2 separate regions of the Homo sapiens genome follow, and region 1 is linked to region 2. The links come from fine-mapping of genetic effects on gene expression. A gene starts in region 2. The other region holds a variant in brackets. All regions are shown on one strand. Distances are from middle to middle. Region 1 holds the start of LOC124904608 (a long non-coding RNA gene). Region 2 holds the start of MADCAM1-AS1 (MADCAM1 antisense RNA 1).

Region 1 (9,851 bases), 19 kb after region 2:
CATTGCACTCCAGCCTGGGCGACAGAGCAAGACTGTCTCAAAAAAAAAAAAAAAAAAAAAAAAAAAGGAGGAAGGAAGGATCTTCGTGGCCCACCTGGCACAGGTCCCTGAAGGAACCCTTGTCCGAGTCGAGTCCCTCCCCGCAGGCTGGCCGAGCTGACCACGTCGCTGAGCCTGGGCAGAGCTGACAGGCCTCCCTGGGGTCAGTGACCGCCTGGTGAGGGGCTGGGGCAGTGCTCAGTCTCCAGCAGCCCCGGGGAAATTGGACATGGAGCCTCAGGCGATGATGCTGGTGTGGTCTCCACGGCAGCCCCACCTGAGCTAATCAGGAGGGGTCTGGGGGGATGGGGGTCCATGGGGCAGGAGGCACACTATGGTGAGAGCCGGCTTGGGGCTGGCTCCGCCCAGGGGAGGGGGGGCTTGGGGCTGGCTCCGCCCAGGGAGAGGCGGGGCCTGGGGCTGGCTCCGCCCAGGGGAGGGGGGCTTGGGGCTGGCTCCGCCCAGAGGAGAGGCGGGGCTTGGGGCTGGCTCCGCCCAGGGGAGAGGCGGTGCCTGGGGCTGTCTCCTCCCAGGGGAGGGGGGGCTTGGGGCTGGCTCCGCCCAGGGGAGAGGCGGTGCCTGGGGCTGTCTCCGCCCAGGGGAGGGGGGGGCTTGGGGCTGGCTCCGCCCAGGAGAGAGGCGGTGCCTGGGGCTGTCTCCTCCCAGGGGAGGGGGGGCTTGGGGCTGGCTCCGCCCAGGGGAGAGGCGGTGCCTGGGGCTGTCTCCTCCCAGGGGAGGGGGGGCTTGGGGCTGGCTCCGCCCAGGGGAGAGGCGGTGCCTGGGGCTGTCTCCGCCCAGGGGAGGGGGGGGCTTGGGGCTGGCTCCGCCCAGGAGAGAGGCGGTGCCTGGGGCTGTCTCCTCCCAGGGGAGGGGGGGCTTGGGGCTGGCTCCGCCCAGGGGAGAGGCGGGGCCTGGGGCTGTCTCCGCCCAGGGGAGGGGGGCTTGGGGCTGGCTCCGCCCAGGGGAGAGGCGGGGCTTGGGGCCGGCTCTGCCTGGGGAAGCGGCGAGGCCTGGGGCCCTGGTCAGCTGCTCTGACGCCTTGGTGCTCCCGGGGGCATCTCCAGGCTCACCCCAGCTTCCACGGCCCTGTCTCACGGGTCAAAGGGCCACTCAAAAGCTGCTTTGAAGACGGGGGCCCAGCCAGGAGCCGCACAGGCCTCTCCCGAGGGTCTAGGTGGCTAGAAGGGCACAAGCCACACGGCGTCGCGTCGAGAGACTGAAATTGTCTATGAACCGCCCTCGCCGGGTTTGAGACTAGAGAGCTGGTGTTTACACGACGTCGCAAACACCATAAAGGGCACTAAACTGTTTCTTTAAAAGCCTTCTTTTTTTTTGAGACGGAGTCACTCTGTCGCCCAGGCTGGAGTGCAGTGGTGAGATCTTGGCTCACTGCAACCTCCGCCTCCTGGGTTCAAGCGATTCTCCCGCCTGAGCCTCCTGAGTAGCTGGGATTATAGGCACGTGCCACCATGCTCAGGTAAGTTTTGTATTTGTAGACTTTTTTTTTTTTTTTGAGACAAAGCCTCACTCTGTCACCCAGGCTGGAGTGCAGTGGCACGATCTCAGCTCACTGCAACCTCTGCCTCCCAGGTTTAAGCAATTCTGTCTCAGACTCCGGAGTAGCTGGGACTACAGGCGCCTGCCACCACGCCCAGCTAACTTTTGCATTTTTAGTAGAGACAGGGTTTCACCATATTGGTCAGGCTAGTCTCAAACGCCTGACCTCAGGTGATCCGCCCGCCTTGGCCTCCCAAGGTGCTGGGATTACAGGCGTGAGCCACCGCGCCTGGCCAATTTTTGTATTTTTAATAGAGACGGGGTTTCCCCATGTTGGTCAGGCTGGTCTTGAACTCCCCACCTCAAGTGATCTGCCCACCTTGGGCTCCCAAAGTGCTGGATTACAGGTGTCAGCCACCGCGCCTGGCCCTGAAGCCTCCTTTCTAACACGAATATCAACTTAGAAACGGACGCAGCTATTGGAAAACATGTGCAACAGCTAGGGTTTGTGAAGCCACTTTTCCAACTAGAACTTTAGTGGCCTGAAGTGCAGGTTGAATATTTCCTGTGAGAATTAGGAAGTGGACACAAATGTGCAAAATACACACTGGGCTCTGAACGCTCAGCGTGAACAAAGAGTGTACAGCATCTCAACATGTATTGCTTATGAATCGAAAGGATAGTATTTTGGACACAGTGGATTAAATAAGATAAAGATACATCTTTGTTTTACGTTTCTTTCTTTCTTTTTTTTTTAGCTGGAGTTTCACTCTTGTCGCCCAGGCTGGAGTACAGTGGTGCTATCTCGGCTCACTGCAACCTCCACCTCACGGGTTCAAGTGATTCTACTGTGACGGCCTTCCAAGTAGGTGGGACCACAGGCATGCGCCACCACGCCCGGCTAATTTTTGTATTTTTAGTAGAGACGAGGTTTTGCCATGTTGGCCAGGCTGGTCTCAAACTCCTGACCTCAGGTGATCCACCTGCCTCGGCCTCCCACAGTGCTGGGATTACAGGCGTGAGCCAACGCGCCCGGCCTTGTTTTATGTTTCATACGATTTATTTTACTTACTACCACCCATTTCTTTTCTTCTTTCTATCGTGGCCGCCGGACGTGGGGCTCCCGCTCCGCTTCTGGGGACGCCGCTCTGGCCTCTCTCAGCACCGGGCAGGGGCCAAATGTGGGTGTTCGCCCTGGGTCGGGGTTCAGGCAGAGCCGCAGCCTCCTGGCTGGGAGGGTTCTCGCCTGCAGGCCGGCGGCCTCTGAGGACGACTCGCTCTCCATTCGCCACCCAACCCGCGCTGAGTGCTGGACATCCCGAGCGCGCTCTCCGTCCCTGCAGTTCCTAACGGGTTGGGAGGGTGGTTCTCCCCCGGCCGCAATCCCGCCCCCAGGAGGCACTAACCCTAACGTGGCATCTGGGGCCATCTGTGGTTGTCACGACTGGGAAGGGGGAGATCCTGGCCTGCACGGTCACCCACAGGCCCGACGGCCCCCGGGAGCCTGTTTCGGGTGCAGCACACCCGGGCTGGATCGAGCACGGTCGGGGAGGATGCGGGGCTGGGCCAAGGCCCTCGGCTCTGCAGGGAGGACGGAGAGCGGGTCCGGGGGGTCCGGGGAGGGAACGGGGCCGAGGCTCTGCGTCCACTGCCGGGCCGATGGGCCATGGGCTGCGAGGGCGGGTCGGGCGTAGAGGGTCTGGCTGGGAGGGCGGGTCAGAGGTCGGGGCCGCGGGCTGCGAGGGCGGGTCAGAGGTCGGGGCCGCGGGCTGCGACGGCGGGTCGGGAGTCGGGGCTCGGCCTGCGAGGGTGGGTCAAGGGTAGGGGGTCCCGGTCGGGGCCGCGCTCAGCACTCAAAGCGCCGCCATCCCTGCTGATGACATTCTCGACCCGCAGGGCGCAGCTGACCAGCCGCTCCCCCTCCTTTTCCGCGGGTGCAGCTCACTGGCCCTGCCACTGCGCGCGCACCCACCCCGCCCACAGCTCCCGGCAGCTCCCGCGCGGCCCCCGCAGCTGAACCACAACTCCCGCCATGCCGCGGAGCGCGGGGCGCCGGGGCGTGTGGCCCACAAGGCTTTGCGCGCTGGCGGGGCCGCTCTAGCCCGCGGTCCTCCGAGTTCGTGGCGGGCTGATGCGGGCTTGGGGCGGGCGGCGCGGACGCCCTGGCGGCTGTCTCGCCCCGTGGTCGGTCTCCTCGCGTTCCCACTGCGGGGCGCCCCGGCTGCCCTTGCGTGGGGCCCGGCACGGGGCGGCCGAGGGGGCGTCCCCGCCGCGAGTCTTCCAGCGCGCTGGTCCCGGGAGGCCTGGCCGTTCGCCCAAGGAGCCTGGTGTCCCCGGGCGGAGACTGGGAAGCCGGGTCCTGTTCCCCGGCGCTGGGCTCGCTGCGGGGGTCGGGGCCGCAGGGCCCGGTCGGGGATCCAGGTTCCGGGACGCGGATTCTGGAGTAGGGGCTGCGGGGCTTCCGGCCCGCTTCGCGGGTCAGGGTCACCGGGAGGCCGTGGTTGCGTTGGGGGTACCCGGACGTCAGTCCCAGCAGCGCGAGGGACGAGGGCGCTCGTTAGTTCCACACTGATTTACTTGTTATTTTTTTGAGACGGAGTCTCGC[T/C]CTGTCGCCCAGGCTGGAGTGCAGTGGCGCCATCTCGGCTCACCGCAAGCTCCGCCTCCCGGGTTCACGCCATTCTCCTGCCTCAGCCTCCCGAGTAGCTGGGACTACAGGCGCCTGCCACCACGCCCGGCTAATTGTTTGTATTTTTAGTAGAGACGGGGTTTCACCGTGTTAGCCAGGATGGTCTCGATCTCCTGACCTCGTGATCTGCCCGCCTCAGCCTCCCGAGGAGCTGGGATTACAGGCTTCAGCCACCAAGCCCGGCCTTTTTTTTTTGTATTTTTAGTAGAGATAGTGTAGCAGGAAGAGCCGCAGACAAAACTCCTCAGACACCCAGTTAGAGAAGGAAGCGGTTTATTCGGCCGGGGCCATCGGCAAGACTCCTGTCCCAAGAGCCGAGCTCCCCGAGTGAGCAATTCCTGTCCCTCTTCAGGGCTCACAACTCTCAGGGGGTCCGCGTGAGAGGGTCGTGATCGATTGAACAAGCAGGGGGTACGTGACTGGGGGCTGCATGCACCGGCAATCAGATCGGAACAGAACAGGACAAGGGTTTTCACAGTGCTTTTCCATACAATGTCTGGAATCTATAGATAACGTAACCCAGTAGGTCAGGGGTCGCTCTTTAACTACCAGGCCCAGGGCACAGCGCCGGGCTGTCTGCCTGTGGATTTCATTTCTGCCTTTTAGTTTTTACTTCTTTCTTTGGAGGCAGAAATTGGGCATAAGACAATATGAGGGATGGTCTCCTCCCTTAATAGAGTTTCACCATGTTGGCCAGGCTGGTCTCGAACTCCTGACCTCAGCTGATCCCCCCTGCCTCATGCTTGTTATTATTTTGACACAGGGTCTCACTCTGTGGCCCAGGCTGGAGCGCAGTGGTGCGATCTCCACTCACTGCAACCTCCGCCTCCTGAGCTCAAGCAATCCTCCCGCCTCGGCCTTCCAAAGTGTTGGGACCACAGGCACACGTCATGCGCCCTGCCAGCACATCTTTATTGAGTGCCTGCTGTATGCCAAGCGTTGTTTTAAGTGCCAAGGAGACAGCAGAGTGCAAGGTGGGCTGACCTCGGCCCGAAGGAGCTTACATTCTAGTGAGCAGCAGGGAAGAGAGACCATGAGCCAGGCTAGTTATGCCATAAACCTCGGGCATAATACCGAAGTGGTGCTGTGCGGAGAAATGTTGAACAGCTGGCTCTCCAAGGGAAAAGGCCCTCACTTGCAGCGCACGCCGCCCCCTGTGTTGTAAATACTCCCATCGTGGCTGCCAACATGAGCCAACCAGCTCACAGATCGCCGCGAACTTCACAGTGGGCTCAGGAGCTGGCATGAGCAGCTCCAGCCGCCGCTGCAATAGGTGAGGCGTGGAGAGTGCTGCTGGGAAGAAGGAAAAGGCAGGGAAGGGGGCAGGCAGCATGATGATAGGCAGGTTGCAGGATCAAATCTGTGGTCCCGATAGGCCGGGCATGGCGGTTCACACCTGTAATCCCAGCACTTTGGGAGGCTGAGGTGGGCGGATCACTTGAGGTCAGGAGTTTGAGACCAGCCTGGCCAACATGGTGAAACCCCATCTCTATTTCTTTCCTTCTTTTTTTTGAGATGGAGTCTTGCTCTGTCGCCCAGGCTGGAGTGCACTGGCACAATCTCGGCTCACTACAAGCTCCGCCTCCCGGGTTCACGTCATTCTTCTGCCTCAGCCTCCTGTGTAGCTGGGACTACAGGCGCCTGCCACCACGCCTGGCTAATTTTTTGTATTTTTAGTAGAGACGGGGTTTCACTGTATTAGCCAGGATGGTCTCGATCTCCTGATCTCGTGATCTGCTCGCCTCAGCCTCCCAAAGTGCTGGGATTACAGGCGTGAGCCACCGCTCCCGGCCCCATCTCTATTAAAAAAGACAAAAATTAGCTGGGTGTGGTGACGGGCGCCTGTAATCCCAGCTACTTGGGAGGCTGAGGCAGGAGAATCGCCTGAACCCACCAGGCGGAGGTTGCAGTGAGCCGAGATTGCGCCACTACCCTCCAGCCTGGGTGATAGAGCAAGACTCCATCTCAGAAAAACAACAGAAACAAAAAATCAATCAATCAATCAGTGGTCCAAGGAAGATCCTGGAGGTGGAGAGATTTGAGCAAGGCCTTCCTGGAGGGGGAGGGAGTTGGACCGGGTGTATCAGGCAGAATGTACGGTGAGTGCAGAGGCTGAGTCCGGAGGGACCAACGCAGCCAGAGAGGGCAGGAAGGACCTGGGCTTGTAGGACCTTGCAGGCTACAGCAGAGCCCACTAGGACCCCTCTCCAGCCCCCCAAATCCTCGGAATACAAGCCCTTCCTTCCTCTGAGCTTCGGTGTCCTCGTCTGTAACATGAGGACTTGCCAGGCATGGGCTGGGTGCCCAGCAGAGCCTGAGAGCTGGTCCTGTCCTCACTGTCCCACGGGGACAGCAGGCTCTCTCTGGATGAGGATGGAGGGGAGCTGGCAGGTTCTCTGTGTCCTTGCGGGAAGAACAAGCCTTCCTTGTTAGAGTCTCCCGGGAACAAAGGGGCGGGCAGCAGCAGGGCGCGTGAGTCTGAGTCAGGGGGCTGGCCGCCGGACAAAGGACAGCAGTGAGCAGCCTCAGGGAAGTGGGGAGTGGCAGATCACGGAGGCTGGGAGCATGAGCTGACCCTGGACGGGCCGGTGGCAGCAGCCACAAACACCTGGCCTCCCCCTCTCCTGCTGTGCCGTGTGCCAGGGACACAGAAACAGCAGGTCATCGGAGGAACCCGGCCTCCTGGGAGCTGCCTCCCAGCTGTCGCACCCTCATCTGCAGCCGGAGGATGTGTTTTAGGAAAGAATGTCGGGAACTTGGGGCTGGCACCGTGGCTCACACCTGCCCTCCCGGTGCTTTAGGGGGCTGAGGTGGGAGGATCGCTAACCCCAGGAGGTCAGGGCCGCCTCATTCCCACCATTCTCTGATCACCCTTCTCCACCGTCAGTGAGCTGTGATCGCGCCAGCCTGGATGGTGGAGTGAGACCTTGTCTCTAGAGAAAAGAACGGTGGGACTTGGATCGGCAGCAGCCACAGCAGTCATGTCTGTCATCTGGACTATTGTAGAGCTTCATTCCACTCACTGGCTCAGCAGGCACTCACTGCGCACCTGTTCTGGGCAGGCGGTGTTTGGGATGCCCAGGGCGCCACGGGGCTCGGGCACGCCCGGCTCCTGCCTCTTCGTGTTCCTATGTGAGCACGCGTGTGTGTGCGCGCCTGCCTGTGTGTGCCTCATCGTGCGCACCCACGTGGTGTAAACGTGCACCTGTGTGTGTGTGTGTACGTGTGTTACGTGGTAGAGCACGGCAATGACCCTCCATAAACAACTAAGCAGGTCAGCAGGGTCCTCCGCTGGGTTGAGGTTGCACCCGCCCTTCCAGGACCCTCCCCTCCTCTCACTCCCCTTCACCCCACAGCGTCTCAGAAAATCTTGTGAGTTCTGCCTTCAAGACAGGCCCAGAACCCACCCACTCCTGACCATCCCACAGCAGCCCCCAGCCCAGGCCCCGTGGTGCCCACCTGGGCTGGTGTGCTCGCCTCCCCCGGGCTTCCCTACCCCCACCTTCCTACCCTCAGTCGATTCCTTCAAACCCAATTCAGGCCGTGCCCTCCTCTGCTCCAGCAGAGGCCTCCGTGGCTCCCACCCTGCTCAGGGTAAAACCCTGTGTCCTCTCCGTGTCCTCAGGGCCCTTCACGACCTGCTGGGTCAGCCCCGCCCTCCCTCCTCCTGCTCTCCCCTCCTCACCCTGCGGCAGCCACCCTGGCCTCCTCCTCGCTCCTCCGCCTCGCCAGGTGCGGTCCTGCCCCAGGGCCTTTGCACAGCGGTGCCCTCCCCAGACACCCCGTAGATGTCTGCACAGCTGGGCATCCCTTAGAGGTCCTGACTTCCTCCAGGCCTTTGCTAACGTTTCACCTCTTCAGGGGGCCTTCCTGGCCACCGTATGTGAAGACCCAACTCTGCTCTGAGGTTTCCTTTCTGTGATCACGTCACTGCACACTCCAGCCTGAGCACAGAATGAGACCCTGTGTCAAAAATAAAACAAGAGGCCAGGCGCGGTGGCTCATGCCTGTAATCCCAGCACTTTAGGAGGCCAAGGCGGGCGGATCACCTGAGGTCAGGAGTTCGAGACCAGCCTGACCAACATGGAGAAACCCCGTCTCTACTAAAAATACAAAAATTAGCCGGGCGTGGTGGCGCACACCTGTAATCCCAGCTACTCAGGAGGCTGAGGCAGCAGAATCGCTTGAGCCCGGGAGGCAGAGATTGTGGTGAGCCAAGATCGCGCCATTGCACTGCAGCCTGGTGACAAGAGTGAAACTCTGTCTCAAAAAAAAAAAAAAAAAAAGAAAAAGAAAAGAAAAGAAAAAAATAAATAAAACAAGAGAGACATGTGTTCACAGCATTATTTGCGGTTGTTCCGAGCTAGAAGCAGCCTAGAAGCTCTGAGTAAATCATGGCATCTTCATGGGATGGAACGTTGCCCAGCAACAGAAGTGAGTGATGGACAGCTGTCACCCACACCAGGACTGATCTCACAGGCAGGGTGGGAGGTCTCATGAGTGCACCGTCCCCTTCCCGTGCCGCACAGAAGAGGCAAAGCGGGGCCTGGCTTTACAGGCAGGATGGCGGCTGACAGGTAGAGGGAAGGAAGATGGCTGCAGGGGCTTCCGGGGAGCTGGGGACACAGTGTTGATCCCAGAGCCGGCCCCATGGGGATTGATTGATCCCAGAGCTTCCGGGGACCCATGAGAGGAAGAGCTGATGGCTCTCTGCTGCAGGGTCTTCCGCAGGCCCTGTGGACATCCCAGGTGGGGTGGTCCCGGCCACTGCAGGGTGCCTAGCGGCATCCCTGCCCCCACTCACCCCATGCCAGGAGCTCCCCCAGTCGTGACGACCACAGGTGTCCTTGGACACTGCCCAGCGTCCCCTGGGGGCAATCACCTGGGTTGGGAACCCCTGGTCTGTTGATTTCAGCCCACCATGATCTCATAGCTCCGTGTCACTGGAACGAGGGTGAGCCTGCATGCCTGGGGGAGTGGTGAGGGAACTCAGGCAGGTGGAGGTCTGTCGGGGAGGAGCCTGTGCTAGACGCAGTGGCAGCCAGGATGGGCGTCTGTAGGGCTTCCCATGGTCATGTCTGAAGAGCTGGCTCTGGCTGACATAGAGTGGCCTTTTGGGGCTGGGAGAGGCGTCCCAGGGATCCCTGAGGAGGTGGGGGTGGGTGTTGGGGGGGGATGGGGCCCTGGACTGGGCCGTGGCTGTGAGGTGGAGAGCAGCAGTCAGCTGCTGAGTGGGCTTTGGATCCAGGAAGCGGCCCCAGGGGTTTGGATCCAAGTCAGCATGGGTCTGGAGGTGCCATTTGCTGGAGTGAGGGAAGGCTGGAAGAGGATGTTTGAATGATAAGGGGCCAGATGCCCTTGTCTTCAGAGTGACCCTGTGGAGTCAGGCTGACATATGCCCGTTTTTCAGAGGAGGAAACACATGCACAGTGGTGCAGTGATTCATCAGGGACCACACAGTGTCTAATCCAGAAACCCTGGTTCATGGGCGCAGGAGGTCTGCCTGGGAAGTTCACTGCAGGAAATTGTAAAGGAGGTGAAGTGGGAATAGCCTCGGTGCCCGTCGAGGGGCGGGGCTGGGGTGCTCGTATGATGGCGGCCAGGGTGGGTGACATTCAGACTGGCAGGT
Region 2 (12,469 bases):
CGAGGGGGCGTGGCCCACTTTCAGCGGGAATGTTAAGAGCCATCGTGCTACTTCTCAGTCCACTTCTCTGTGGTCATGATTGCAGGTGCGTGTCAAGATCAGACAAGCCCTTGGTGGGGGGTGGGTGGGGGTGCCGTGGCTCCTGCCTGTGAGCCCAGCACTTTGGGAGGCCGAGGCAGGAGGATTGCTTGAGTCCAGGAGTTCGAAACCAGCCTGGGCAACATAGTGAGATCCTGTCTCTACAAAAATTTAAAAATCAGCCAGGTGTGGTGACGTGCGTCTGTGGTCCCGGGTACTTGGGAGGCTGAGGTGGGAGGATCCCTTGAGCCCAGGCGGTCGAGGCTGCAGTGAGCTGGGATTGCACCACTGCACTGCAGGCTGCGTGACAGCAAGACCCTGGCTCAAAAAGAAAACTGGGCCAGGCACAGTGGCTTATGCCTGTAATCCCAGCACTTTGGGAGGCCGAGGCGGGTGGATCACTTGAGGTCAGGAGTTCAAGACCAGCCTGGCCAACATGGTGAAACCCCGTCTCTACTAAAAATACAAAAATTAGCCGGGTGTGGTGGGGGCGCCTGTAGTCCCAGCTACTCGGGAGGCTGAGGCAGGAGAATGGCGTCAACCCAGGAGGCGGAACTTGTAGTGAGCCGAGATCGCGCCACTGCACTCCAGCCTGGGTGACAGAACCAGACTCCATCTCAAAAAAAACAACAAAAAAACAACTGGACGTCCCCTGCAGAGTAAGCGAGAAGAGTTTTGCTTGTGTTGAAGCCACTGAGGTTTGGGGTTGTTGGTTCCTGTCGTGCTCGCAGCTTCTGACTGACAGGTCTGTGGGCCGGGATTACCCAGCGCCATCCACCACCACTTCTGCATAAATGCTCTCCTCTCTGGGGGCGGCAGCCCTGGTCCAGCTCCGCAAGCATCCACGCGGCCCCTCGGTGTGCAGGGCTCTGTGCCTGGCCCAGGCCTGCCTCGGGTGTTCGTCTGCCCCTCCCAGCTGTGTGCACTCTCCTTTTCTGCACCTGGCCTTGTGCATCTACGGAGTGGGGGTTCTTGTGAGGACGGGAGAACGGGGCTGGAGCCAGGTGCTCAGGACAGCAGCTGGCATACGTGTGGGAGGCCCCACCTGCTTATTTTGGGCTGTAATTAGGGCTGCAGCTCAGCCACAGCTGCCTTGAGGGGCAGGAAGACACACAAAGAGGTAATTACAGCCTGGTGAGATCACAGCCATGATGACGGCAGGAGACAGGAAGGTGACAGCCCACTTCAAGGCGGCCGCATACCCGCCCCTCCTGGGCTCCCGGGCGGCTCCCAGCAGAATCATCGGGTGAGGGAGGAGGAGGAAGAGGAAGGCAGCAAGCTCTGGGCTCGGAGGAGGAGGCCGGGGCTGGAACGTCAGCTCTGCCTGTGACGGTGGCCTCTGGGCCTTGGTTTCCCTGATTGCAAAATGGAAAGCGGGAGCCCAGCCAGGGCTCCGTCTGTGTCGGCTCCTACACAGAGCGGTTTGTAAGGCGTGTGAGCATTTGTTAATACAGGAAAGATTCTATTTATGGAACGTCTCCAGAAAGAGACAGGAGCCACCCTACACCTTAGACTTCTGCTTCCCACTCCTGCCCCCAGCAGACGCCGGGCGGTGTCTGGGACATCTGTGGTTGTCACGACTCGGGGAGCTCCTGGCAAGGAGTGGGTGGAGGCCAGGGACGCTGCTCAGGGCCCTGCAGTACCCAGGACGGCCCCCAGAGGACGAGTCGGGGGAACCCTGGCCCAGATCAGCTGGGGCTTCGTTTTCGTGCACGTTTTCCTGGCAGTGACCTGCAGGGGGCAGTGCAGCCCTTGCTGCCAGGATGAGCAACGTGGTGGCTGAGGAGGCCTCCGGGGCTGCACTCTGGGGCTCTCTGACCCCAGCTCTGCCCTCGGTGGCCGTGTGGCCTTCAGCAAGTCATGTAACGTCTGTGTGTGTGCTCCAGGGGGCCTTGGAGACGACCAGGAAGGTGGCAGGAGGGGGACACTGTGGCTGCCATCACCAGCCCTGGCGGCCGGAGCTTGCCATTTCTCAAAAGAAGGTGCCAGGGAGGATCTGGGGTGACTTCTCCCCCAGCCTACCACGGTGATGCTCTCAGGAGCAGCCCCAGTCAGCCCCTCAGCCTTTGGGGGTCAACACACTGGACTGAGTGGGGACAAATCTGCCAGGCTCTGAGCTTCTCTTTTTTTTTTTTTGAGACAGAGTCTCGCTCTGTCGCCCAGGCTGGAGTGCAGTGGCGCGATCTCGGCTCAATGCAAGCTCCGCCTCCTGGGTTCATGCCATTCTCCTGCCTCAGCCTCCCGAGTAGCTGGGACTACAGGCGCCCGCCACCACACCCGGCTAATTTTTTGTATTTTTAGTAGAGACGGGGTTTCACCGTGTTAGCCAGGATGGTCTCGATCTCCTGACCTTGTGATCCGCCCGCCTCGGCCTCCCAAAGTGCTGGGATGACAGGCGTGAGCCACCGCGCCCGGCTGCTCTGGGCTTCTCTTCCTGACTGGTCAGGTGACCTCAGGGGTTCCTGACGGTCCAAGGATGGAGGGGCGGCCGGAGCTGCCTGCTGGGAGGACGGGAGCAGGCCTGGCTCCATGAGCACAGAATCAGATGCCACGCAGGTCTGTGCACCTGTCTTCTGCATTCCCCACTGGCTGTGTCTCTGGGGAGCCCAGGCGAGCCCAGGGCCGGGATGCATCTGCCACCAGCACCACCCTTGCCCTGAGTCCCTGCTATGAGAACTCTTCCAGCCAATGGCTCCACTCCTGTCCTGGGGTGACTGGTGCCCACCAAACTCACGCCCATCCAGAACCTCAGACTGAGAGCTTATTTGAGACAGCAGCTTTGCAGATGTAGGCGGTTGAGGTCACACTGGAGTAGGGTGGGGCCTAGTGGTGTCCTTATGAGGGAACACAGAACAGAGACACACAGGAGGCCACGTGACGACGGAGGCAGAGACTGCAGCAATGTGGCCACAAGCCAAAGACTGCTGGCCGCCACTGGAGGCTGGGGAGGCAAGGAAGGCTCCTTCCCTGGAGCCTCCAGAGGGAGTGTGGTCCTCCTGACACTCCGATTTCAGACTTCTGCCCTCCAGAACTGTGAGAGAATAAATTTCTGTTGTTTTAAGCCACTAAGTTGGAGGTAATTTGTTCCAGCAGCCCTCGGAAATTAATATAAATATAAATATCCTCATCTGCAGTGTCTACGGGGTGAGTGGCTTGTGCAGTGCTCAACCTGAACAACCATACGTGGTGGGCCTGCTGTTGACCCCTTTTCCTCCTTGGGAGATTCTCTTCCGGATGTCCTGGGAGGCCATCTTCCTCCTGCTCCCCGTTCACCTCTGGTCTCACGTTCTCACCCTCTCTGGTGGGCTCTCTGGGCTAGGTGCCCTCAGAGTGGGGTCCTGAGCTCTTCTCATCTCTCCTGAAGACTTCAGGACCCCTCCAGTTCAGTCTTCTGTCCTGGCCCCACGTCAGTTGCAGACGCTTCTTTCTACCTTCCTGTCTCCAGGCTCCTCCCAGCCTCCAACTTAATCCGCAAGTGGCTCTGGCAGCTTCTTCAAACCAGGGGCCTTCCATCGCAGTAAACGGCTCCACTGACCCTCTGGGCCTGCCCTTGCCCGCTCCCCTCCCACCTGGCTCCAGCAAATCATCGGGCGGGGCCTTCAGAGCCACTGGGCCACCGGAGCAAGTCTGCTCCTTGTCCAGGTACCCAACACCCTGCCACCCTTATCTGAGTATGATCTTGGACACCTGTGCACCCTGAACGTGGTAGGGGGGACACTCCCCATCTCTCTTCTCCCCCCGAACTTCTCTGGGACTCTGGCGAGGGCTGCCATGGTGGGCGCTTATGCCCTGGTTATGAGGCTGAAAGGGCACCTTTGCTTGGCATCCTTCCCTGCCTGCTCTTCCCACCCCCTTCCTGGGTTCTCTTGGGCGCACCCCCTTGTAAAATCACCTGCACACACAATGCCTACCTCAGGCTCCGCTTCTGGGGACCCCCCCCCCAACAAAAGACATCAGCCCATCCATCCCCAACGCCAACAGATAGTCCCCAACCACCTTCCCTGGGCTCAGAACTGGCCCCAGCCAGGGGACACCGCGCGTAGGCACCTGCAGCCTCGCATGCTTCAGCCAAATTCCGTGGCTTTCCCGCCTCCCGTGTGCCCCACACTCGGGGTCTAAATTTGCACCTGCTGGGCCTCTTCCCTGCAACCCGCCCGCACATCGCCAGGCTCTTCCAGGAATCCCCACCTGCCCGCTGGGAGCCTGTCCCCTAAGATGGGGGCCCTGGGTGACTGCGCTGCTCTCTGTAAATATTCACGTTCTGGCTGAATGGACGGGGATAACATGAGGCTGCTAAGGAGGCGACTAGGAGGACCTGGCTCGGGGGCTGGCTCTGCGACCTCGGGCCAAGTCCTCTTGAGCTGCACGATTTTGAAAATCATGAACTGCAAGGGGAAACTCAGCACCTGCAAAAAGGCATCACAGAAGGCGAAGCCGGCCAGAAGGACTCGCGCCGCATGCAGCGCGCTGCCTAGCGCCGGACCGAAGCCCGGACCCTCCAGCCCACCTTGTCCGATCCATCCCACCCAAGAAGGCATCGCGCACTACAACTCCCAGCAAGCCCCGGGCCCCTGCGCCGGCGCTGCGGGTAGGGAGCCGCGCGCGGCATGCTGGGAGTTGAAGTCCATCGCTGCCCCACCCGCCCAAGCCGGCCCACTGCGCACCTCTGGGAGTGGTGGGCCAGGCGAAGGTGCCATAGCGCGCGGCCCAGGCGCTGCTGCTGCAGCAGGAGCTGGCCCGGGGGCTCCCCGGCGCCGCCGTTTACAGGCGAGCGCAGGCCCATGTTCTCGAAGTAGTGAGCCAGGAAGGCGATCGGCTCCTCGGGCCGCGCCTCCAGCACCTTCAGCAGGGCCGCACGTAGCATTTCCGTCACGCCGACCTGCCGCAGGAAGTCCTCCTCGCTCTCGGCCGCCCCCGCCGCCCGGGATACCGACTGGCGGCCGCTGTCCGTGAAACCGGCCGGCGGTGGTACCGCTTGCCGCCGCTTCTCCACTGCCGCCATCTTCGCTGAGGGCAGCGGGACCGGAAGCACCGCCATATTCCACTGTGCGCTAGAGCCCCCCCAAGGCGGCCATCTTGATTAAGGGCAGAGGGCACCGGTATCCCGCTGGGAGACTTTGGGAAGTGACAAGGGTACGCTACCACTTTCCTTGTGTCCTTATTGGCACTCTCTCTTCTCCTCCCTCTTTGTGTATATTGATTGGCTCTCCTGGCTTTGGCCTCGGTCCTGAATTTTGCCAGACTCCAAAATGGCTGCCTCGGAAGTGCTTCGTTTCTGGCACAAAGCCGGATTGCTTGCCATTTGGGTAGTGAGCGAGTCCTTCATTAGCATGGTCTCCTAGCAACCAGTCTCCCTGGTTAGCAGAGAAGCCTGACGGAGCATGCGCGGGGCTGGACCTGCCCAGGACTGCTGGACCCAGCCCCGCGCCCGGCCCCCAGACCCTTTTCTCATGTTCATCTCTGAGCCTTGGTGCTGGGGGTCGAGCTCAGCCTGGCCTTCCGCCTAACTCAGTCAACGTCTGAGTGCGTAGCTCACCTCGTGGGAGAAGCCCCCTCCCCAGCTCCGCTGCAGCTGCGCTGAGCCCCTATTGGCGGCCACACGGGCGAGCATCCCGCGCTGTTACCCCCTGACCGCCAGAGGGAGCTTTCTGACACCGCAGCCTCCAGAGCTGTAAACTCTGCCATGGCTCTCCAGGGCCCCCGGGCTGGCACCTCCAGGCCTTCATCGCCTGACCTCGCTTCCGGCCGCCCTCCCGGCCCTCCCAACCCTCCGCAGCCCGCAGCCACCTCAAAACACAAGCAGTCTCCTCCATAAGCCGCCTCTGGGTGTGTTTCCCCAGGCGACCTCTGTGGATCTTCCCTCACTGCTTTCGGGGACTCCTGGTTAAGCTTCTCACCGAGGAAACCACTAAGCCCTCGCGTTTCCCCGCCCCGGGCAGAGCTTGCTGGGTGCCGTCCCCGTCCCTCAGGGGCGTTGCCCCGGGCAGGGGGCAATGAGAGCTGTTTGCCGGGGGACCGTTCCACCATCCTCCCAGCACAGGAATCTCTGGCGGGCAGACCAAATGCCCTTTGTAAAACGTGAAGTAGAGGTTCCTCTTCAAATGAGACTTTCCTCCCCATCTAATTAGGAATAAATAGTAACTTCTCTTAGAAGCAAAATGTATTCAAAGGCCTGTGGTAGGCCGGGCGCGGTGGCTCACGCCTGTCATCCCAGCACTTTGGGAGGCCGAGGCGGGCGGATCACGAGGTCAGGAGATCGAGACCATCCCGGCTAACACGGTGAAACCCCGTCTCTACTAAAAATACAAAAAATTAGCCAGGCGTGGTGGCGGGCGCCTGTAGTCCCAGCTACTCGGGAGGCTGAGGCAGGAGAATGGCGTGAACCCGGGAGGCGGAGCTTGCAAGTGAGCCGAGATCGCGCCACTGCACTCCAGCCTGGGCGACAGAGCGAGACTCTGTCTCAAAAAACAAACAAACAAAAGACCTGTGCTAACATTCTTTGTTAATTAATTGTTAATGTTATATTGAATATATATAATGTAATAAGGAAATCAACATACTTTATGTTCTTAGTGCCCACAATGTAGGCTAAATATCTGCCCTGGCATGCTTATACTGGTCCAAGCAAGCATTAGGTCATAACCTGTTCCTCTTCCTTATTTGAAGGTGTTTTTACCTTTCTTAGCATTCCACAAGCTACTTCTTCCTTCCTTTGTTCTCCTCTGCCTTTGCCTCTTTTTAAAAGTTCCAAGCTGCTAGCCGATCGGGATAAATACAGAATGTGAGGTCCCGTTCCAGCCAATGGAAACCGTCCCGTTCCAGCCAATGGAAACCGGACAGAGCAGTAGGGTGGACGCGTCAGGTTATAAATGACCCTGTCTCCTTTGTTCTGGATACTCTCGTGGCAAAACTGCTGGCCAGTGTACCCTTTCTGCAGAAAGTAAAACAGTGGCCTTGCTGAGGAAATGACATTTATATTCAAGTGCTATTTCTTTACGGCACCGGGGAACAAGCATTTCTAACACTTTCTTCTCCAGCCCCGGACTGTGGGATGAGGGAGATGGAGCCATCAGGGCAGGACCCACAGTCAACCCTCTGCTGTCCGGAGCCCTCAGACCTCTCCTCTCCACGGAGTGGGTGTCAACTGAGAAAACTGACACGTTTGTATCATTTTAGGAGGTTTATTTGCCAAAGCCTCAGGAGGTCCTGACGACAGGGGCCCAGGGTGGTCAGGGCACAGCTTGGTCTTACGCATTTTTAGGGAGACGTGAGACATGAATCAATGTATGTAAAAAGTACGTGGTTCCGTCCAGAAAGGTGGGGACCACTCAGGGAGGGGCTTCAGGTCATGGGTAGGTGAGACAAACAGTGGCCTTCTTTTGAGTTTCTGATGAGCTTCTCCAAAGAGGCAATCAGAACATGCATCCATCTCTGTGAACAGAGGGATGACTTTGAGTAGAATGGGAGGCAGGTTTGCCCTGACCAGTTCTCAACTTGAAGGGGTCCAAGCTATTTTGCTTTCACAGGGGGAAAGGCTGGCCACTCAGGAGGGGCTGATCCCGACCTGGCCGGTCCCCCTTAACCCAGCCCAGGCCGACACCTGGGGCAGAAGCCTCAGAGAAGCTGGTGGGTGGGTGTCGTCCTCAGCCAGGTGCCGGCAGCGTTTCCAGAGGTGATAGGTGGGCAAGGCCAGGAGCAGCAGTCCCAGCACCGCACTGCTGGTCCACAGAGCCGCGGGCAGCTGGTCACCCGCAGGTTTGGACGCTGGGGAGAGAGTGCAGGAGACCCCGGTCAGAGCCCTCCAGGCCTCTGCAGGCTTGGGAAGGGAGGAGCCCCTCAGAGGCTACACGTGCTTCCAAAGTTACCACGTTCCCTGAAATTTCACAAAGGACTTTACCATGACCCTTTTGAAATGCGCATAGCACCTTAGAGTTTAGAAATGGGCAGTCCAGGCCAGGCGGGGTGGCTCACGCCTGAAATCCCAGCACTTCGGGAGGCCAAAGCGGGTGGATCACGAGGTCAGGAGTTCGAGACCAGCCTGACCATGGTGAAACCCTGTGCCTACTAAAAATACAAAGTTAGCTGGACATGGTGGCAGGCGCCTGTAATCCCAGCTACTTGGGAGGCTGAGGCAGGAGAATCACTTGAACCCGGGAGGTGGAGGTTGCAGTAAGCTGAGATCGCACCACTGCACTCCAGCCTGGGTGACAGAATGAGACTCTGTCTCTCAAAAAAAAAAAAAAAAAAAAAAAAGGGCAGACCGGAGAGAGGACGGCTCACCACCATGAAGGGTGCTGAGCCTACAATCTGCACTTTGAAGACTTAGTCTGGGGAAAAGGGAGGAATGTAATATATCTCCTTCATACTATTTTATATTGATTACCTGTTGAAATGATAATGCTTGGGATATATTGGGCTCTGCGAAATGTATGACCACACTTTTTTTTTTTTTTCGAAATGGAATCTTGCTCTGTCCCCCAGGCTGGAGTGCAATGGCGTGATCTTAGCTCACTGCCACTTCCGCCTCCCGGGTTCAAGTGATTCTCCTGCTTCAGCCTCCCGAGTAATCCTCAGCTGGGATTACAGGCACATGCCACCACACCTGGCTAATTTTTGTATTTTTAGTAGAGATGAGGTTTCACCATGTTGGCCAGGCTGGTCTCGAACTCCTGACCTCAGGTGATCCTCCTCCTTGGCCTCCCAAAGTGCTAGGATTATAGGCATGAGCCACCGTGTCTGGCCAACACTTTTTTTTTTGAGACTGAGTCTTGCTCTGTCACCCAGGTGTGATCTCAGCTCACTGCAGCCTCAACCTCCTGGGCTCAAGTGATCCTCCTGCCTCGGCCTCCCAAAGTGCTGGCATTACAGGCATGAGCTACCATGCTTGGCCCGACCACATTATTTTTACTTTTAATTTTTTTTTTTTTTTTGAGACGGAGTCTTGCTGTCTCCCAGGTTGGAGTGCAGTGGCGCGATCTCGGCTCACTGCAGGCTCCGCCTCCCAGGTTCACGCCATTCTCCTGCCTCAGCCTCCCGAGTAGCTGGGACTACAGGCGCCCGCTGCCACGCCCGGCTAATTTTTTGTATTTTTAGTGGAGACGGGGTTTCACCGTGTTAGCCAGGATGGTCTCGATCTCCTGACCTCGTGATCCGCCCGCCTTGGCCTCCCAAAGTGCAGGGATTACAGGCATAAGCCACCGTGCCCGGCCCATTTTTTTTTTTGAGATGGAGTCTCGCTCTGTGCCCCAGGCTGGAGTGCAGTGGCGCGATCTCGGCTCACTGCAAGCTCTACCTCCCGGGTTCATGCCTTGCCTTTACTTTTAAATTTGAAATTACCTGTAGGAAGTAGAAAAGTTCCTCTTCAAAGCTCGTCTTGATTTACAAATAAAATAATAGACATAGACACTAGAAATAATAGCTTCTTACTCTAAAGCCTCCTATCAGCTATTAGTTCTTACACTTTAGCCCAGTTAGTTGCTTGGGCTTACCCAGGCATATCTGGAGAGTCCCAGGGAAGTCTTAGCTCATAGCTTATGCCCCTTCCTTATTTGGAAATGTTACTGCTTCCTCAAATCTTTCGTAAGCAACTTCCTCTCCTTGTTTGTCCTCCTTTGCGCTTACCTACTTAGGAAAGTTTTAGGTTGTTAGCAAACTGGGTATCAGTTTAAGAGTGTGATATCCTGCTCCAGCCAGTGGATGCAGGACACAGCAGTAAGGGCGACCCAAATGTGTGAGGGATAAATATGTCTGCTTTTCCTTTGTTCAGCTGTGCTCTCGCCATTGTTCCGTCTACAATGAGCACCCTTTCTGCAGAAAGTAAAAGTGGCCTTGCTGAGAGAATTAAATTTGTTTGAGTGCTATTTCTTTGTGGCACTGGGGGACAAGCATTTCTAACATTACCTATGTGGGCCGGGTGCAGTGGCTCACACCTGTAATCCCAGCACTTTGGGAGGCCGAGGCGGGCAGATCACCTCAGGTCAGGAGTTGGAGACCAGCGTGGTCAACATGGTGAAACCGCATCTCTACTAAAAATACAAAAATTAGCCGGGAGTGGTGATGGGTGCCTGTAATCCCAGCAACTCAGGAGGCTGAGGCAGGAGAATCGCTTGAACCCAGGAGGCGGAGGTTGCAATGAGTCGAGGTTGCACCACTGCACTCCAGCCTGGGGGACAGAGCGAGACTCTGTCTCACAAAAAAAAAGGAAAGAAATTACCTATGTGGCCGCATTGTTTCTGCTTCTATTCCAAAGATTCTTCTAGTCTACAAGGCTTAGAATTTACCAAGTGCCTTGACATCTACACAGTCCCTGATGTTTACAAAAAGGACCCACAGTTAAGAGAAGCCCACTGGACAGACAAGGAAACTGAGGCTGGGCAGATGGGGAAACCGAGGCTGGAAAGACGGGGAAACCGAGGCTGGGCAGATGGGGAAACCGAGGCTGGGCAGACGGGGAAACTGAGGCTGGGCAGACGGGGAAACCAAGGCTGGGCAGGGCAATTTCTTGTCTAAAGTCTTCATCCAAGGAACCTCTCGCTCTCAGCCCTTCCCACCCTCCCTGCCCCCAGGGACCAGAACTCACAGCCTGTTGGGATCACTTCTCCCTGCGTGGGCCCAGCCTGGGAGATCTCAGGGCGGCGAGTCCTGGTGGAGCCTGGGCTCCTGGGGGTGTGTGTGGAGCCCTGCTGGGGGGCGGGCTCCGGGGAGGTCTTGTCGGGAGGCTCCGGGGAGGTGGTGTCGGGAGGCTCCTGGGAGGTGGTGTCGGGAGACTCCGGGGAGGTGGTGTCGGGAGACTCCGGGGAGGTGGTGTCGGGAGGCTCCGGGGAGGTCGGGCTGTGCAGGACTGGAAACAGAGTGAGGGTTTTTTTTTCCTCTCTGCTGCCCCAGGCTTGCCTCTCCTGCCTCAATCTCCGCATCTGGATGAAGGGCTTGGACCAGAACCCCTCCAAGCCCCTTCCCTGGACCACTCTGGTGAGTCACATTTCCATTTATTCTTTTTTTTTTTTTTTTTTTTTTTTTTTTTTTTGAGACAGAGTTTTGCTCTTGTTACCCAGGCTGGAGTGCAGTGGCGCAATCTTGGCTCACCACAACCTCCGCTCCTCAGGTTCAAGCGATTCCCCTGCCTCAGCCTCTGGAGTAGCTGGGATCACAGGCGCTTGCCACCACACCTGGCTAATTTTGTATTTTTAGTAGAGATGGGGTTTCTCCATGTTGGTCAGGCTGGCCTTGAACTCCCAACCTCAGGTGATCTACCCACCTCGGCCTCCCAAAGTGCTGGGATTACAGGCGTGAGCCACCACGCCCGGCCTGGTTTTTTTTTTTAGAGATGGGGTCTCACTCTGTCGTGCAGGCTGGAGTGCAGTGTTGTGATCATGGATCACTGCAGCCTCAACCTCCCAGGCTGAAGCCATCCTCCCCACTCAGCCTCCTGAGTAGCTGGGACCACAGGTGTGCAATACCACGCCCAGCTAATTTTTAAATTTTTTTGTAGAGATGGGAGGTCTCGTATGTTGCCCAAGCTGGTCTGGAACTCCTGTACTCAAGTGATCCTCCCGCCTCAGCCTCCCATGGCTGGCCTACATTTTTGTTTCTATTCGGCTTACTGTTCTAGTTGATAAAGCCTAGAATTTGTTGTTGTTGTTGAGATGGAGTCTCGTTCTGTTGCCCAGGCTGGAGTGCAATGGTGCGATCTCGGCTCACTGCAACCTCCGCCTCCCGGGTTCAAGCGATTCTCCCGCCTCAGCCTCCTGAGTAGCTGGAATTACAGGCGCTCACCACCACGCCAGGCTAATATTTGTATTTTTAGTAGGGGACGGGGTTTCACCATGTTGGTCAGGCTAGTCTCGATCTCCTAATCTCGTGATCCACCCACCTCAGCTTCCCAAAGTGCTGGGATTACAAGCATGAGCCACCGCACCTGGCCACATCTAATTTTTGTATTTTTAATAGAGATGGGGTTTCACTATGTTGGCCAGGCTGGTCTTGAACTCCTGACCTCAGGTAATCCACCCACCTCAGCCTCCCAAAGTGCTGGGATTACAGGCGTGAGCCCGGCCTAAAGCCTATAATTTATAAAGTGCTTTGAAATCCACATGGTCCCTGAAATTTACAAAGGACCCACAGTCAGGGAAGTCCACTGGACAGATGAGGAAGCTGAGGCACCACAGTGGGCAGGATGGGAGTCCGGGCATTCCAGGTCCCCCACTCACTGGCAACATCACCCCAGCAGCCTCCTTAATCTCCACGTGCCTCAGTTTCCTCAACTGTCAAAGGGGTGAGAGTCACCTCTTTGGGCTGCCCTGAGAGCGAGTGGGTCCCGCGTTTATTATGATGGGCTGTGGACGAGGAGAGTTGGGAGGAGGCTGGCGTGGAGAGAGAAGGTGCTTGGGGGCTT

What was found. PIP is the estimated chance that this variant, and not a neighbour inherited with it, causes the effect.
Region 1: its variant is fine-mapped to the expression of MADCAM1-AS1 in prefrontal cortex (BrainSeq, PIP 0.95). The same link has a PIP of 0.9 or more in putamen.

The regions. Positions count from the first base shown.
Region 1 is chr19:482,797-492,647 of GRCh38, reverse strand. It overlaps LOC124904608 (a long non-coding RNA gene), which reads right to left and starts at 3,482. Exons shown (of 2, transcript XR_007067072.1): 1 at 2,943-3,482; 2 at 2,578-2,782. It also overlaps a transcript of CIMAP1D not described here. RefSeq lists silencers at 3,093-3,142, 3,213-3,842 and enhancers at 2,670-3,171, 6,477-6,995. The variant T/C (reference allele first, on the strand shown) is at 4,142.
Region 2 is chr19:500,118-512,586 of GRCh38, reverse strand. MADCAM1-AS1 (MADCAM1 antisense RNA 1) reads left to right here and starts at 4,698. Exons shown (of 3, transcript XR_936221.4): 1 at 4,698-5,211; 2 at 10,963-11,046. MADCAM1 (mucosal vascular addressin cell adhesion molecule 1) reads right to left here. Exons shown (of 5, transcript NM_130760.3): 4 at 10,658-10,918; 5 at 7,244-7,842. The coding sequence ends at 7,622. TPGS1 (tubulin polyglutamylase complex subunit 1) reads right to left here and starts at 5,090. Exons shown (of 2, transcript NM_033513.3): 1 at 4,743-5,090. The coding sequence starts at 5,080. RefSeq lists enhancers at 1-668, 669-1,509, 1,808-2,107, 4,945-5,284, 5,157-6,014 and silencers at 1,664-1,958, 5,815-5,944.